Linked DNA regions of Homo sapiens: region 2 is linked to region 1. The links come from fine-mapping of genetic effects on gene expression. A gene starts in region 1. The other region holds a variant in brackets. All regions are shown on one strand. Distances are between the middles of the regions.

The links. PIP is the estimated chance that this variant, and not a neighbour inherited with it, causes the effect.
Region 2: its variant is fine-mapped to the expression of SIPA1L2 in whole blood (INTERVAL, PIP above 0.99).

Annotation. Positions count from the first base shown.
Region 1 is chr1:232,625,567-232,633,904 of GRCh38, reverse strand. It overlaps SIPA1L2 (signal induced proliferation associated 1 like 2), which reads left to right and starts at 3,772. Exons shown (of 23, transcript NM_020808.5): 1 at 3,772-4,036. LOC124904551 (a long non-coding RNA gene) reads right to left here and starts at 3,323. Exons shown (of 2, transcript XR_007066943.1): 1 at 2,469-3,323; 2 at 978-1,148. RefSeq lists silencers at 3,355-3,834, 3,895-3,994.
Region 2 is chr1:232,574,998-232,583,335 of GRCh38, reverse strand. The region is part of intron 1 of SIPA1L2 (signal induced proliferation associated 1 like 2); the gene reads left to right. Among named protein-coding and RNA genes, the nearest start is that of SIPA1L2, 51 kb to the left of the region's middle. The variant T/A (reference allele first, on the strand shown) is at 3,324.

The sequences.
Region 1 (8,338 bases):
TATTACAGTGTACACATTTCATCTGTAGGTAGAATCTTGCTGCAGTGTGTCAAGAAAATAAAACTCCCGTTTTGCTAAATTCAAACGTAAATAGCTAGAAGTACCAGGCAAGGTCAGCCAAGAAGTGCAAAACCTTGGAACAGGGTAGACAGTTGGTATGTCTTTGAACTCCAGCTCTCTTTACACTTAGAGAAAAATAGGTAAGACTGATGTTGGAATTATTTCAGGCGTGGATGTGCTGGAAGAAAACTGTAAAAAGAATTAGGCCGGGCGCGGTGGCTCACGCCTGTAATCCCAGCACTTTGGGAGGCCGAGATGGGTGGATCACTTGAGGTCAGGAGTTCCAGACCAGCCTGGCCAACGTGTTGAAACCCCATGTCTACTAAAAATAGAAAAATTATCAGGGCTTGATGGTGCGTGCCTGTAATCCCAGCTACTTGGGAGGCTGAGGCAGGAGAATCACTGGCACCTGGGAGGCGGAGGTTGTAGTGAGGCAAGATCATGCCACCACACTCCAGCCTCGGTGACAAAGCGACTCCATCCCCTGCCAAAAAAAGAAAAAAGAAAAAAAAAAAAGAATTAATCCCTTTAGTTTGTTTCTTTGGGAACCCCTAGAACACGATGCAATTCACAGGAGAAAGAAGAATTTTGAGGGATAGAAAGTGAGGCTTGGGCAACAAGGGGAGGGAAAATCTTGGCCTGGGGGAAGGCGAAAGTGATAAGTTCACACTAGCCTTTAGGCAAATACAAGTTTATAATTCACCATTGATGTTTGTCTTCAAAATTTCAGCAAAATGTATAGCTTTAACATAGAATGATTTTCAGTAAGATGTCCTGAGGCAAAAAGGATGCAGTGATATCTTCATAGGTGCTGCAATTCCACCGTCTGTGCTAAGTTTCAGGCTGTTTGCCTAAAAAGGCAAGAAACAAGAAGGCTGCTGCTAGGAAGACCAGCAAGGAGGGACACACACATTAAATCTAATACTATTTCTGGAATATTTTATTTGGTGAAGAAGGTTCAGAATCATTCCTGAGATGTGTCTCTTGAGGATCTCTTGTGGTCGGCCGTGAGGTGGACACCTCGTGGGTTTTGCTCTCGCCTGTATGTATCACCATTGTTCTGCACAGCAAAGGGGCTCACTCAGGACCTGTTTGTTGAAAGCAGGAACATTCCGATGAAGGCCAGCCTCATGTGACGTGGAGTTCTGGGAAAGTAAGAAACTCCCACGGACCTTCATAAACGTACACAAATATTTACTCTGCACAATCAATTACAGGCATTAAAAAAAATACTGCCAACCTTGGTAGTGGGGCTTAGGATATTTCAATTTTAGTTTGGAAAGCACAAGAAGTGGGATGGGAAGGTGAGAGAGTGAGAATTGTGGCTAACACCGTCATCGAAGAGTGTCTGGTCAGACTTCCTTCCATATATGATCATTATGTACTGGATATTAAGGAACACATCAAAGGGATGGGTTCCTCTTCATCTATTAGACAGTGTACATTTGTAGCTGCAGCAGTTAAGACCCACCTCAATGACAACCCACTGACCAAGGATCTGCTCCGGATTGTAGTGGATTTGTGCCTTAGGGATCAAAATGCTGGAGGAGATGTGGTTCTTCTCCTCAAGGCCCTTATAGACAATGAAACACGCAATAAGGTGAAATGTGATCATGTCCTCCCTAGGCACTCCCAGGAAAAGTTCCTTCACGGCTGCTCCTCCTGCAGGGTTTTGTTGAGTACACAGGAGATAACATTGATACCTCTTGTAGAGTATCTACAACATATGAGGATACACCTGTGAGTTGGTGAGCTCTTGAAAAGCCGAGCCTTATGTCCTGTGCATTTTATATTCCCAGCACCTAGTATGGTCTGGAACATCAGAGGATCTCCATAAATCTGTTTTTTTTTTTTTTTTTTTGAGACGGAGTCTCACTCTGTCACCCAGGCTGGCGTGCAGTGGCATGATCCCGGCTCACTGCAAGCTCCACATCCCGGGTTCACACCATCCTCTTGCCTCAGCCACCCGAGTAGCTGGGACTACAGGTGCCTGCCACCACAGGCGCCTGCCACCACGCCCGGCTAATTTTTTGTATTTTTAGTAGAGACTGGGTTTCACCGTGTTAGCCAGGAAGATCCTGATCTCCTGACCTTGTGATCCTCCCGCCTCAGCCTCCCAAAGTGCTGGGATTACAGGCTTGAGCCACCGCGCCCGGCTTCATAAATGTTTGTTAAATGAATACATGACAATCTTGTAAATGCTGATAATGGGGTGACAATTGGGAAACTCATCAAAACCTGGAGTGCTCAGGAATTGTATTATGTCACAGGATTGCTTCTTGACCTGTTTAGTTATATCTAATCCCACAGATTATACCTATAATTTAAAAAGATACGAAAGATTGTATAATGTGTACATGCTTCAGATCACAGAGAAATATAGTGTGGGAAGGACCGCCTCTATTTACCTTTTAACAGGGCTGTGTTCTAGGAAGTGTTTGTGATAGGGAAGTAGAGATAACACTTTTTCTTCAGGAAGAAGTCTGACTCTAGAAGGGGAGAAACTGAAAGCCCCAATCCAGTCTCAGGGAACCCAGCTCAAAACTCTGACAAAAAAGCCTGCTCAGGAAATTCTACGGTGTGGCTGGAAGGTAAGTTAGAGGCTGCCTCCACCTGCTTTATTATTCCTGCGTATAGATGACTGTTGCTGTCCATTTAGGCAGAGTCAATTCCAGTCTAGCTTAAAAGATTCTTCTGAGACCCTTTAATCTTTCAGCATCTAATTCAAATGTCAAGCAATTTACAATAATAGTTTCAAATAATGCTTCCTCACAGGTGAGTCAACATTTCTAAGAAAGCAGAAAAGTTGGGTATAAAAAGTTCAATTCTTCCTCGTCGGAAAAAAGATGCAAGACATTTCTACCGTGGGCTGAGCGCTGCCTGGAGGGCAGGGAGGAAGGGGTGAGCGGACCGCGCTGGGATGTGGGTGCCTGGAACTGCCAATCTCTCCGTTTTCCCCTTGGCTCCTAAAGGTCTCTTAGCAGCATTTCCTGCACGCTGGCACCCCCTGTCCTCCTAACGTTTTACTGCCTGCGTGTTTCTCTGTGCTTCCCCACCCTCCGACCCACAGGGCCCGGGGCGCCCTCCGGGGGCCGGCACACAGCAGGGTCTCGCTTCCTCGCGCTGTCTTCTTCAGATGGGATCACTTCGACTTGCGGCCGTTTGGGCGTTCGCGGGGCCTCGGCGATTCTGTGGCGTCCTGGGCTGTGTATGTAGCCCCAGCGGCCGAGGCTCACGGATCCGACCGCCCGGCCGCCGCGTCTGTCCCAAGTTGGGAGACGGGAGGGCCGGGTGGGGTCGCGCCTGCGCCAGGGGGCGGCTCAGAACCAGACTCGCGGTTTTTAACTTATTCCTCAGAGGGGCGAAAGCGAGTCTCGACAAGGACGGCGACGGCTCTCTAGAAGCCGGGGTCCAGGTAGGCTGCCCGGCCCTCGAGCTCGCCCAGCGCCGCTCATGATGCGCCCCGCAGCCCCCTCCCCAAGAAGGGCGTCCGGGCCCCTCCTGGACGCGCAGCTCCCGCGCGCCGCGGGGCCTGGGAACAGCGCACCGGCTGCGCCCGGAGCCGGGCGGACGGTGAGACTGACGGCGTCCGCGCCCAATCGTGGGGCGGGGCCGAGGGGGCCTGCAGGCAGCGACCAATGGGAGCCCGCAGAGCGGGCGGGGGGCGGTGCCGCTGGGCGGGCGGGCGGTGGCATCGGGAGCCGGCGCGGCAGACTGGGAGCCCGGGAGGAGCTGGCGGAGCGAGAGGAGGAGGAGGACGGAGGAGGAGCACCGCGCCCCCGCCGGCCGCCCGAGCGCAGGCCGAGAGCTCCAGCCGCAGCCAGCGGGTCCGGGCCGCCTCCGCCGGAGCCCGGCGCGGGGAGAGTCCGGGCCGATGGGCAGCCCCGGGCAGCGGCGGGCGGCGAGGCGGCAGCCCGGGTACGCGCCGCCCGGCGCGCACAGGCTGTAGCAGGTTCCGGCGGACGGCGTTGCGAAGGTTCGTGTCGGGGAATCCGACGGGCAGCGTGGCGAGGGTCGGTTCGGGATGCCTGCGGCCAGGCGGGGACTGTCCCGAAGGGGAAGGGGATGCCCTTCGGGGCGCTTTGGGGGGCTGACGGCGGCGAGGGGTGCGAGGGGCGCGGGGGTGCGAGGGTCGCGGCGCAGGGTCCGGCTTGTAGACGCAGATGCGCCCGCGCTCCCGATCCCCGGCTGGAAGAGGAGCCGCCGCCGCCTGTTCTCTCCAAGTTATCGATCGGCTGAAAGGTTATTCCCGTCTCGGCGACACAGGCACTGAGGAGGGTCTTCTCCAGGTGCCCAGAACTTCGCTCTGACTAACGCTCTCTGGAAGGGCTCGCGGTTGCCCGACGCAGCTTCCCCGGCGCGCCTGGCCAGCTGACGCCGAACTTGCTGCGGGGCTAATTCCCCTTCTAGAGGGGGTGCGCCCGGAGCGCGCGCCCTCACCGGGACGGATCCCTCTTTGTAAGACCGGGAGCCTCCGGCGAGCGCTCTTCTCACTCACCGCGACCTTTCTTCCCACTTTGCCAGCTCCTGGGCCTCTCCGGGTCTTCCCGTGTCAGTGAGGGTAGTTTGCCCACGTCCTGGGAATATCCCTGGGAACACCTACAGATTAATTTTCAGCCGTGCCGCAAACCCAAAGAATCAATTTCGGCTCATCATCTGCAAGAGAGAGCCGAGGCTTCTCGGAAAGAGAGAACAACTTGGCATTACCCCTGTGGGAGATATTTGTCATCATTAACCTGCTTGAGTTAAATTAATTCAGCCCAAGATGACTCTGGCCTGAGTATTGGAAAAAATCAAGTGCATTGGTTACGGAATTGTGCTCACCAAAACATGATTTTGGTCAAAACAAAATTGTAGACATTTTGGATTTTGGTTAGATTGAGACTGGGTTTTGACAAGGATGGCTTTTTTTTAAAAAAAACAAGGAAAAAAACCCTCAAAGAATCTTGGTGATTCTCATGTCTTTGCCCAGTAAGTTCAAAATAGTCGCACAGATTTTTCTTTTCTTTGCCTCTTTTGTCTGCAGTCTCCATTCTAAACGTTAACACTAGATGGCTTTCTTATGACAGACATTTAGTAAACTGCCCATTTGAGTCGCGTTTGTGTGCAGCCTAGGTTGTAATTTTTCTAGTGTTACAATTAGTAATTGAAGAAAAAAGATCTCCCAAACTGTTGCTTTTTATTGCTTTCCTAGAAAACCTACACATACCGATATTTTTGCGGATATTGAGAGGTGGCCTATTATTTTTGGCATTCCCAAAGTTGAATTTCAAGAGACAACTTGGTTACTGTATTTAGTTACATCATTTAAGAATGCTTGTTTCATGTTTGGACTTATTTAAAGAATTCAGAGTTCTGTTAGTTTTGTCATTCTGTTTAGACAATATTTCCAGTTAAAAGATGTTTACCGCTTGATTGAATTTCACTGCTTGATTCAGAGTTATAAGAGAGTATTATTCATGAGAAAAATGCAGTCTTTCTTAAGTTTTGGGTATAAATCACATTGATTCTTCCTAAAAGATTCCATTGATCCATTTTGGGAAGAGATGCAGTTAAAGTATCTGCATGATTCATACCAGGGATTGTGTTAGGGACATCTCCCCAGAGGATGTTTGATTTTTTCATTTCTAAGCACAAGCCCTTTTATGACAAGCACAATAGCCCGTAGTTTCAGCAGTAACAGCAGCAGCAGCAGCAGCAGGCTCCCAGTTATGTTTTTAAGCACTTTTATTCTAAAGCAAGATCACGGCAGCCTGTCCAAATCTTGCCTAGGTAGGCAAACTTATTTATACGCTGAGTAAATATCTTGAAATTATCTTTGTAGCTATCATTTATTGTGTGCCTTGCCCAGCTTAAAATAAGACATACTGAATTTGTTCTAAATTAGAGTGTATTCATAAATAGCTGAAGGAAAAAGAAGAAAAACTACAGAGCAAACATCTGGGAAGTAGGAAATGAAATCAGAAACAGCTTTTATCAGTACCCACATTCTACCTATAGATGGGGTGAAATGAACCTGGATAAGAAGCAGTGTAAGCACTTGATCCGGAAAAGCAAGAGCTAGATCACAGGTATGGGGGTGGAGCTTCTGGCTTTTAGTATGGGCCACAGATTTTACCCAGTTGCTTTAAGTATATGTTTTTCATTAGATGCTTTTTATGTTTTGAAATCATAGATTTTCTCAAAGAGCTTTAATTGTATGGAATGTAACTTTTAGTCTAATAAGGGAATTATCAGATCATGATTTGGCTTCTATGATGCTTACTGTAGTTAAAGCTGTGTAATATGGATTTGGAAGGTGTTTTTTTTTTTCTCCCCCTCACCCCGCAAGACTGGGATGGTGTTTTGAAGGGTTCCTTGATACCTGAGCTTAGTAAACACTTGTCCACCTTGGGGATCTTTTTACCTGAGGCAAAGGAGAAGCGGGTTATTATTTTGAAATTAGCAGTCTATTTCTGAAAGTAAGGAAATACTAGCTACCCTGAAAAACCAGTTGTTTGGTAATTGAAACTGGTTTAAAAGCACTGTGTTTGGGCATCGAAACTAGTTTAAAGGGATTGTGTTTCCTGCATACTTTGCAAAGAACTATGTGTTTATGTGGATACAGCCCCTTGCCCCCAACCATAATTGGTAAATGCAGCGTTATTTTTTGAGATTGAGGAAGGCATTGAGTTTTTGAACTTCTGATCAATTTATGGTGGTAGTTGAGGATTACAAATCCTTTTAAAGACACACTGAATTTGAAGAAAATTTAGACTAGGGTATTGTTAATTGAAAAGCTGCTTTTTTTTTTCTTTCTGTTTTGAACTTCAATGAAATACAAAGTACAGTCCTAGAGAATAGTGAACCATGTTCTAGGTTTTCTACTTCTGTTAATGTGCCTAATTCATTTGCAGAGTGAGAGTAGAAAAAGCTTTAGGCACAGACAGGAACCTTGAGCTTCCTGCCTCTACCACCTGTCACAAATGAATTTGGATGAAACTATTTTCATGATCCCTTTCAGCACCAAAATTTGGGGTTTCTTTAAGGTTTAAGACGAACGCATTAGAGTAATGAAAATGCCTGTCTGACTGGGATGTTTATATTTTTCATGATTATGTCATTTCTTTGCCTTGGCCTATAGTAAGTTTGTATGTGAATGCTTTGCATGAGGGTCATAGCTACTTGGTTTACCTTGAAATCAATGATTCAGAAATTGCTTTTTGTGTTCCAGTTGCATGTAGCTGTGACTCCTTTTAAAAGTGTGGTAACAATGTGGTAGGAATTTAAAAGCTTCCCAACTTTAGACATAGATTATTTTGATCCTTTCTGAACTGGATTCATAAACTTTGGTTCCAAAGAACAGCAGCTGTAGAAGGGAGCCAGATCTTGACTCACTGTTGAGGTTCTGCTTCTTGAGAGATTTCATATTTAGTGCAACCCAATTCCTTGGTTCGTTCTTCTCCCCCAGTACTAGATAGCCAAGTTGGGTGGTAGGAAGGAAGAAAATATGCAGCAAGTCGAGTCTAGTTGTCATGCTCCTTTGGGCCAGAAAGGACCTTAAAGATTGTCTCGTCATGTTGTTCCTATACCTTTTGTTTTCGTCTACCTGTAAAATGAAAAAAAAAAAAAAAAGCAAATATTAGGGATTGTCAGATATGTCAGCATTTAATGTTGCTACATAAGTGTGTTTAAAATTGACAACAGCAGTTACTACCTATTGTCAATGCATTTCGTCAAAATCCTTTTGATGTACCAAAAAAGAGAAAAGGTGGGGAAAGGGGGAAGAATATGTATGCTGTCAGACTTAAAGGAGAGTTCTTCCTATCCAGAGAGGAGCTGTGTTAAAATTACCCCACTCGTGGATTTATATCTATCCCCACACAGACACTTTTTTCTTTTGCATGGGTCAATGAAAAATTCACTAAGGACCGGGGTTTAGAAATCACTGAGTAGCTCAACTAACCCTTCTTTGATATTTGGATCCTTTTATATAATCTCTGTAAGTGGTCTTCCGGTAATACCTGAACATTGCAAGTAACGGGTGGTGATTTCCACCTTTTAATGGTTTTGAGTACTAGAAAGTTTTTTGGCCTATAGAATTGAAATCTGATTCTGCTTGTTTATTCAAATTCTACTGCCTTGGTGGCCTACAGAACAAATCCTTCAGTCTCTGTCAGAGTTGGGCTCTTGGTGTAACGTGACCCGTGAACATGACCTGTGTAGAGTACAGCAGGAGTGTCTTGTCATAGGTTGCATGTTGCTTGCACTGATGTAGTCCAAGTTTGCATTTACTTTT
Region 2 (8,338 bases), 51 kb after region 1:
ATCAGCTATATATGCTAAATTTTATGTCCTGTTTTTTTCCTGGATAGTCGTGCTTGTGATGATGCCTATTACTTCCTAACTTATATCTTTTCTGCTAATAAAATTGTCCCTGCTTCCCATACTAAAATGATATCATTATTTGTAATGTTTTACAAATTGGGTGGAAGAGGTGTGTGTTCACCAAGCAGCATCATGACTTTTCACTGCTCCACCCTTTACCCAGGCAAGTTGGAAGAACAACTATTTGAGTGTGAGAACAAGAGCACCAGGACAAGAAGCTGGAAAAATAAATAGGAGATATTGCTAGTGGCCTGGTTGCCTTGACTAGAAATTTGCGCTTTGTGTTCATTGTGGAGTAGTTAAAGCTTTTTAGCTTGAATTTAGCAGGGATGTATTGGTTTCCAACGAGTCTTCCTTATATATCTTGTTTGTGGGAATTACTGAAAGAGCCACAGAATTTTCAACACCACATGGAGGCTATCCCAATAATCACAATAACTTAATTATTTATTCTTAAAAGCTCAGAGAAGAATTAATGTAAAAAATTATGGGAACCCTTATACACTGTTGGGGGGAATGCAGATTAGTTCACCCAGTGTGGAAAGCAGTTTGGAGATTTCTCAAAGACCTTAGAACTACCATTCGACCCAGCAATTCCATTACTGGGTATATAACCAAAGGAAAATAGATCATATACCAAAAAGACACATGCACTCTTATGTGTATCACTGTGCTGTTCACAACAGCAAAGACATGGGATCAACCTAGGTGCCCATCAGTGGTGGATTAAATAAAGAAAATGTGGTATATATACACTATGGAATACTGTGTAGTCATGAAAAGAATGAAATCACGTCGTTCATACCAACATGGATGGAGTTGGAAACCATAATCCTAAGCAAACCAATGCAGGTATAGAAAACTAAATATTACATGTTCTCATTAATAAGTGGGATCTAAATATTGAGCACCTATGGATGTAAACATGGGAATAAGATACTGCAGACTAGTAGAGGGAGGAAGGGAGGGAGGGAAGGAAGGAGAGGATGGGGTAAAACACTATCTCTTGGGTACTGTGCTCACTGCCGGGGTGCAATATACCCATGTAACAAACCTGCACATGTACCCCCTGTATCTAAAATAAAAGTTGAAAAAAAAATTATGGAAAAAGCATAGACAGTGAATGAAATTAATCATGACATCATCATCAACAAATGTTTCTTGAATGCAACAAGCTTGCCTGCTTATTCATTTCACCAACCATTTATTATTATGCATAAGGCTTCTGCCCATTAAGAATTCACAGTTGAAGGTTGCAGACATATCTATCAAGAAGTTACATAAGAGACTGAAAAATGTTCCAGCAAAAGGTACAAGTAGTATTCTAAGTGAGTAGTAGAGAGGAAGAGACACTTTTCTATCTAGGAAGTTTTTCTTTAACAGTTTTTCTCTTGGAAATGTCTGAGAAAGTTTTGTGGGGAATATGGGGCTTTTAGGCGCAAAGGATGCTGTTTATTTTGGGTAAGGGGACGTCTTGATAGAAGGGACAGAGGCAGGAACCTTTAGGGCATATTCATCTGGGAAAGGTCATTTAATGTGTATTCTGACTGTCAGGTAGGGAAGTTGAGTTACGAAGGTACTTGGGCCATATTAAGGAATTATTTGAAGGTTATTTTGAGATTTAAGTTACACATAGTATAGTTTTGAACAGATGTGTCTGTGTGAGCTGTTGGTTATCAGTCAAAGAAACTCAAAGTAACTTAAGCAAAAAAAGAAAGGCATAGCTCAAGTAACTGGGATGTTTAGGGGTGGCATACTACAGGCATTGTTGGATTCAGGGGCTCAAACATTGTCAGAAGGCCTCTTTTTTCCTCTCTCTCTCTGTCCTTGCTCTGCCTTCCCTACGTTGAGCTCTGCATAACAGCCCTTTCTCTGTGATCTATGAGACAGTGGCCAGCGGCTGCAGCCCACACCCTCCTAGCTTAGTTCCTTTGGCAGAACTGAACTTCTTAAGATCCCGACATCATCCCAGAGAAAACCGTATATGACCTTGCCATGGCCTGCACATATCCTTGAACTAGTCACCGAGCTAAGGGAATGGTGTGCCCAGAGCAGCTCAGGGGACAGCATGACATCAAGGGCAGGGATGGTTCCTTACAAGAACCAGAACGGAATGTGGGAAAGGGACACGAGGAGGACAGAAACTTTAGGTGCCATGGTTGCAGCACAAGAGGGAGGGTAAGAGAAGACTGGAGCTGTTAGCCCAGGTCAGGAACATGGGTGGAGGAGGAGATTTGTCAGGAAGGATGCAGACTCCATCTTCTGCATGTTGAGTTATAGGTGCTATGGGCCATTCATGTGGCAGTTGGCTGTGAGGGCACAAAGGAGAGGGATAAAGTTAGTGTTGTAGCAGAATAAAGGATTGATGGTAAAGAGAGTGAAGGGAACCAAAGTATTTTATCCTGAAATATACTTTGACATATTTCAAGATGGCTATTCACTGGGCTTGAAATGCAAGAACAGCTGAAAAGCTGTCTTTTGTAGGGGAGATTTGCATCTGTAGGGAATCTGCATTAATACAGCCAGGCTTTCTCTAAGGCCCTCCTTTGTCCTCATCTAGGCAAGATTAACTGAGAGTCTGACACCTATAAAGGTCTGAAAAAAAATTTACCATCCATTCTGTCTGAGGGCTGCTACCCATGTGAGGTTTCATCTGCATCATGAGGCAACCTTTGCTAGCCAGGACTCCTCCCCTTCCCATAACCTGTCCTGTCATCATAACTTGAGGTACCATCATAACCTGTTTTTGGCCATGCTCCTGTCAGGCATTTTAACCAGAGTGATTCCATCTTGAACAGGGGCTGAGTAAAATGAGGCTGACACCTACTGGGCTGCTTTCCCAGGAGGTTAGACATTCTTAGTCACAGGATGAGACAGGAGGTCAGCGCAAGATATAGGTCACAAAGACCGTGCTGATAAAACAGGTTGAGGTAAAGAAGCTGCCAAAACTCACCAAAACCAAGATGGTGACAAAAGTGACCTCTGGTCATCCTCATTGCTCATTATATGCTAATTATAATGCATCAGCATGCTAAAAGACACTCCCACCAGTGCCATGACAGTTTACAAATGCCATGGCAACACCAGGAAGTTACTATTTAGTCTAAAAAGGGGAGGAACTGTGACTTCTTGGATTGCTTGCCCCTTTCCTGGAAAACTCATGAATAATCTACCCCTTATTTAGCATGTAATCAAGAAATAACTATAAGTATACTCAGTTGAGCAGCCCATGCTCCTGCTCTGCCTGTGGAGTAGCCATTTTT[T/A]AATTCTTTACTTCCTTAATAAACTTGCTTTCACTTTACGAATTCACCTCAAATTCTTTCTTGTGTGAGACCCAAGAACCCTCTCCTGGGGTCTGGATCGGGATCCCTTTTCAGTAACACTCCAAGCCCCCATTCTTTCTGTAACCTCAGAAAAAGCTTCACCCATCTGGCCATTTCTTTAAGTTCTTTTGTTTTGTGAGACTTCTGTTCATATTAATATATTTGCTTTTTCTCCTATTAATCTGCCTTTAGTTGATTTTTCATCGAGCTTGGAGAGTGAAGAGGAAGTTTTCCCATGGCTCCTGCAATAGCATGGAATAGGGAAGCTCACTGAGGAGCATCAGAGGTTAGATTAGATTGCATGAAATTGCTGCTTTTTTAGGTCAAAAATAGAGAACCATTGGTGGTTTCATATGGTTCAACCTATTCTATGGATTCCCTTATGGGAATGGCTGTGTTCTTCCTTCAGCAGACACTTGCTTATCCTGTAGGAAATGCCCTGCCTCCCTCCTCTGTTCTTCTTCTCTTTTGGAAAATATGTACTGGGAGCTTTTTAAGTACAGAGCATGTGCTTAGTCCTGGATATGTGGTCATGAACTGGACCTTGCTGGTGTCTAGAGTCTAGACCGGAGTGTTTTGGGGCTAATGGAAAACTCTGAGGTGTGGTGGTGTGGGGCTGCAAAACAAACACAAACAAAAACAAAAAGTAGCCTTTTTTTTTGATGCTGGCTTTCCCCAGATACTAGCAAATCCATCCTAACAGTAAGTAGAGAAACGGAGCTTGATGGAATATTTGTGTTCATTTCAGTGGAAAGAAAATGTTTGCCTTCACTTTCTCAGAACTTTCTTTTGCGGAGAAAACAGCTGATGAACCTGCTGGTAAGAACAAAGAGCCAGACCTCTGTTTGTCTGCAAATCTGGTTTTCACACAGAGCTTCCTGATGAAGTGTGAGGAGCCTCCTCGCAGTGATAGACCAGGGAACAGGGGAGAACCTTTCCCCCTCACACTTGGCATCCCAGCACCTGGCCCCAAGCTCTGTTGCTTGAGAAGATTGTGCTGCTGAAAGCTCATTTCTTTTTTTCCTGTCTAAAGGCAAAACAAGGTAAAATACAATAGCCAGTTGCCTCATATAAACCACCTGCTTAGTAGGAAATGAAGTAAAACTCTGCAGTCCCTATTGCTACTTGAAGAATTTGTGGTTTCCTTTCCTGTCAGTAAACAAAAGCCGTCAGTTAAAAGAGTGGAACATTAATTGTTTACAGGATGTTTGCTGTAACAAAGGAAGGAAAAGTGCCTTTTACAGACTGTTCATTGTGTTGGGGATATTACAACACCAAGTGTCTCTCCTAGAGAAGAGACATTAAGCATAAGATATTTAGTCACAAAACACAGACTGTTTCATTAACAGGACTTTAAAAGACTTATTTTGTAAACTCAAGTTGAGGACTTCATAACGTATCGGCATAAAGAATATAGATGAGAGTAGAAAGCTTCCTTAGAGAAAAAATGAGATCCCAAAATTTTGAAAAATACTGATGCTTCAGAGGCTTTGAGGTTTTTTAAATTGTAGAATATCATGCCTTTTTTTTTTGTAAGAAACATTTATCTTTTATAGTTCAGTAATGTATTTTACCTAGGCTTCCGCACGTTGCCTTTCAGTACAGGCATACTTCGGAGGTTTGCTTATTTCCCAGACAACTGCAATAAAACAAATGTTGCAGTATAGCAAGTCACACAGATTTTTTTTTTTTCCAGTGCATTTAAAAGTTACAGTTACGCTATACTGGAGTTTATTAGGTATGCAGTAGCATTATGTCTAAAAAATGTGCAAACCTTAATTTAAAAATACTTTTTGCTAAAAAATGCAAATGATTATCTGAGCCTTCAGCAAGTCAGTCTTTTTGCGGGTGGAGAATCTTGCCTCAGTGTTGATGGCTGTTGACTGATCAGGGTGGTGGTGGCTGAAGGTTGGGCTGGGTATGGCAATTTCTTAAAATAAGACAACAATGAAGTTTACCACATCAATCGGCTCTTCCTTTCATGAAAGACTTCATGCTGTTTCATAGCATTTGACCCACAGTAGAACTTCAAGACTGGAGTCTCTCCTCTCAAACCCTGCCAAGTTTATGTAATTTCCTAAATCCTTTGCAACAATGTTCATATCATCTTCACCTCCATCTCAAGAAACCAGTTTCTTTGTTCCTCTACAAAAAGCAACTCCTCATCCATTCAAGTTTGATCCTGAGTTTGTAGCAATTTAGTCAGATCTTTAGGCGCCAATTATAATTCTAGTTTTCTTGCTATTTCTTCCTCTATTGAAATGTTAAGCCCCCACCCCAAAGTCATCCTTGAAGGTTGGAGTCAACTTCTTCCAAACTCCTGTTAATTGTTGATATTTTGACCTCCACCCATGAATCGTGAATGTTCTTGATGGCATCTAGAATGGTGATTTTAAAAGGGTTTCGGTTTACTTTGCCCAGATCCACCAGAGGAATTGCTATCTGTGATAGCTATAACATTATGAAAATTACCTCTTAAATAATAAAATTTAAAAGTCAGATTTACTTTTTAATCCATGGGCTGCGGAATGGATGTTGTTAGCAGGCAAGAAACAACATTCATCTCCTTGTACACCTCTGTCAGAGGTCTCGGATAACCAGATGCATTGTCAATGAGCAGTAACATTTTGAAAGGAATCTTTTTTTCTGAGCACTTGGTTTCAATGTGGACTTAAAATATTTAGTAAATAATGCTGTAAACACATGTGCTGTCATCCAGGCTTTGTTGTTCCAATGATAGAGCACGGGCAGAGTAGATTTAGCATAATTCTTAAGGGCCCAAAGATTTTTGGAATGGTAACTAAGCATGAGTTTCAACTTAAAGTCACCAGCTGCATTAACTGCTAACAAGAGAATTAGCCTGTCCTTTAAAGCTTTGAATCCAGGCATTGACTTCCCCTCTCTAGCTGTGAAAGCCCTATAGGACGTCTTCTAATAGAAGGCTGTTTGATTTACATAGAACATTTGCTGTTTAGTGTAGCTCTCCTTGTACCTCACAAACCAGCCTCTGCTACCTGCAGACTTTTCTTCTGCAGCCTCCTCACCTCTCTCAGCCTTCATTGAATTGAAGAGTATTAGGGCCTTTCTCTGAACTAGGCTTTGGCTTAAGGAAATGTGGCTGGTTTCATCTTCTATCCAGAACACTCAAACTTTCCCCGTATCAGCAACGAGATTGTTTTGCTTTCTTATCATTTGTGTGTTCACTGAAGTACCACTTTTAATTTCCTTCAAGAACTTTTCCTTTGTATTCGCGACTTGGCTGTTTGGCGCAAGAGGCTTAGCTTTCGGCCTGTTTTGGCTTTTGACATGTCTTCCCCATTGAGCTTAATTGCTTCTGGTTTTTTATTTAAAGTGAGTTGTTTGACTCTTACTTGAATACGGAGAGGCTGTTGTATGGTTATTAATTGGCCTACGTTCAATATTGTTGTGTCTCAGGGAATCGGGAGGTCTGAGGAGAGAGAGAGAAATGGGGGAGGCTGGTCGGTGGAGCCATCAGAACACAATATTTATGGATTAAATACACTGTTTTATATGAATGTGGCTCATGCCACCCTAGAACAGTTACACTAGTTCCATCCAAGATCGCTGATCACAGGTCACCATAACAAACATAAAAGTAATGACGAAGTTCGAAGTATTGTGAGAATCACAGTGTGACACAGAAACACCAAATGAGCACTTAAAAAATGGTGCCGATAGACTTGCTCCATGCAGGGTTGCCACAAACCTCCAGTCTATAAAAGACACAGTGTCTGCAAAGCACTGTAACATGAGGTTCACCTTATACCTAGTACTGTGTCTGAGTCCCTGACGGTACTAGACGTCCACTGATGTTACGTAGATTGAGACTGTTGTGCAACCATCACCATCATCCATTTTCAGACCTCTTCATCTTGAAAACTCTGTATCTATTTAACCCCATTTCCCCTCACCCCAATCCCTGGCAGCCACCGTTGTACTTTCTGATTTTATGAATTTGACTTACTCTACATACCTCATATAAATGGAATCATACAGTATTTGTCCTTTTTGTGACTGGCTTATTTGCTTAGCGTGGTATCTTCAGGGTTCTTCTATGTTGTAGTTTGTGTGAGACTTTGCTTCCTCTTTAAGGCTGAATAATATTCCACGGCACGTATTTCCCATATGTTGTTTTCTGTATTCATCTAATGGGCGTTTGGGTTGCTTCTACCTTTTGGGCCACTGTGAATAATGTTGCTGAGAACAGGGCTGTGCCAGTTCATCTTCGAGATCCTGCTTTCAGTTCTTTTGGCTGTATGCCCAGAAGTAGAATTGCTGGGTTATATGGTAATGCTGTGTTTAATTTTTTTTTTTAGGTACCCACTATATTATGCATCAGATTTTTAAACTCAGAACTGTCTACATTGGCTACAAAAATGGTCAGTGAGAATTTCTTTCCCCACCCTAATCCTAACCACGGCACAAAATCTTACATTCAGCCGCAGTTGAGGGACTACTGGTAATTTTTCATCTACTGTTTCTGTCCTTCATAAAAATGGAGACAGATTGAAAAAGGAGGGCTTTTTAAAACTAAGACGAGTCATAGCCTTCCCGGTAGGTGACCTTATAGTTTATCGCCTCTCAAAGTGAAAGGAACGCTGTTAATGCTATGCTGGGTTAACACTTGTAAACTGGGACTGTCTCTGGGGTGCCCTCCTTCTTGGGGTTTGTCTTGTCTTTTTTAGGAAGCAGTGCTGGATCTTGGCAGCATTTAGAGAGCCACACTGGCTTCATAAACCCATGTTTATATAGTTTTGTCTGAAGTGTATACTCCACATTGTTGCGTTTTGAGTCCATGCAGTGTCAGGTCTGAGTGTGAGCCCTAGGGCGCTTGGCTGTAGTTGAGTTTGCAGAAATTCTTACGTTGATTATTTTAAAAAATGATGTGTTGAAAGCATGATCTTAGGAGTCCAGATGACTTGAGTTCACATCCT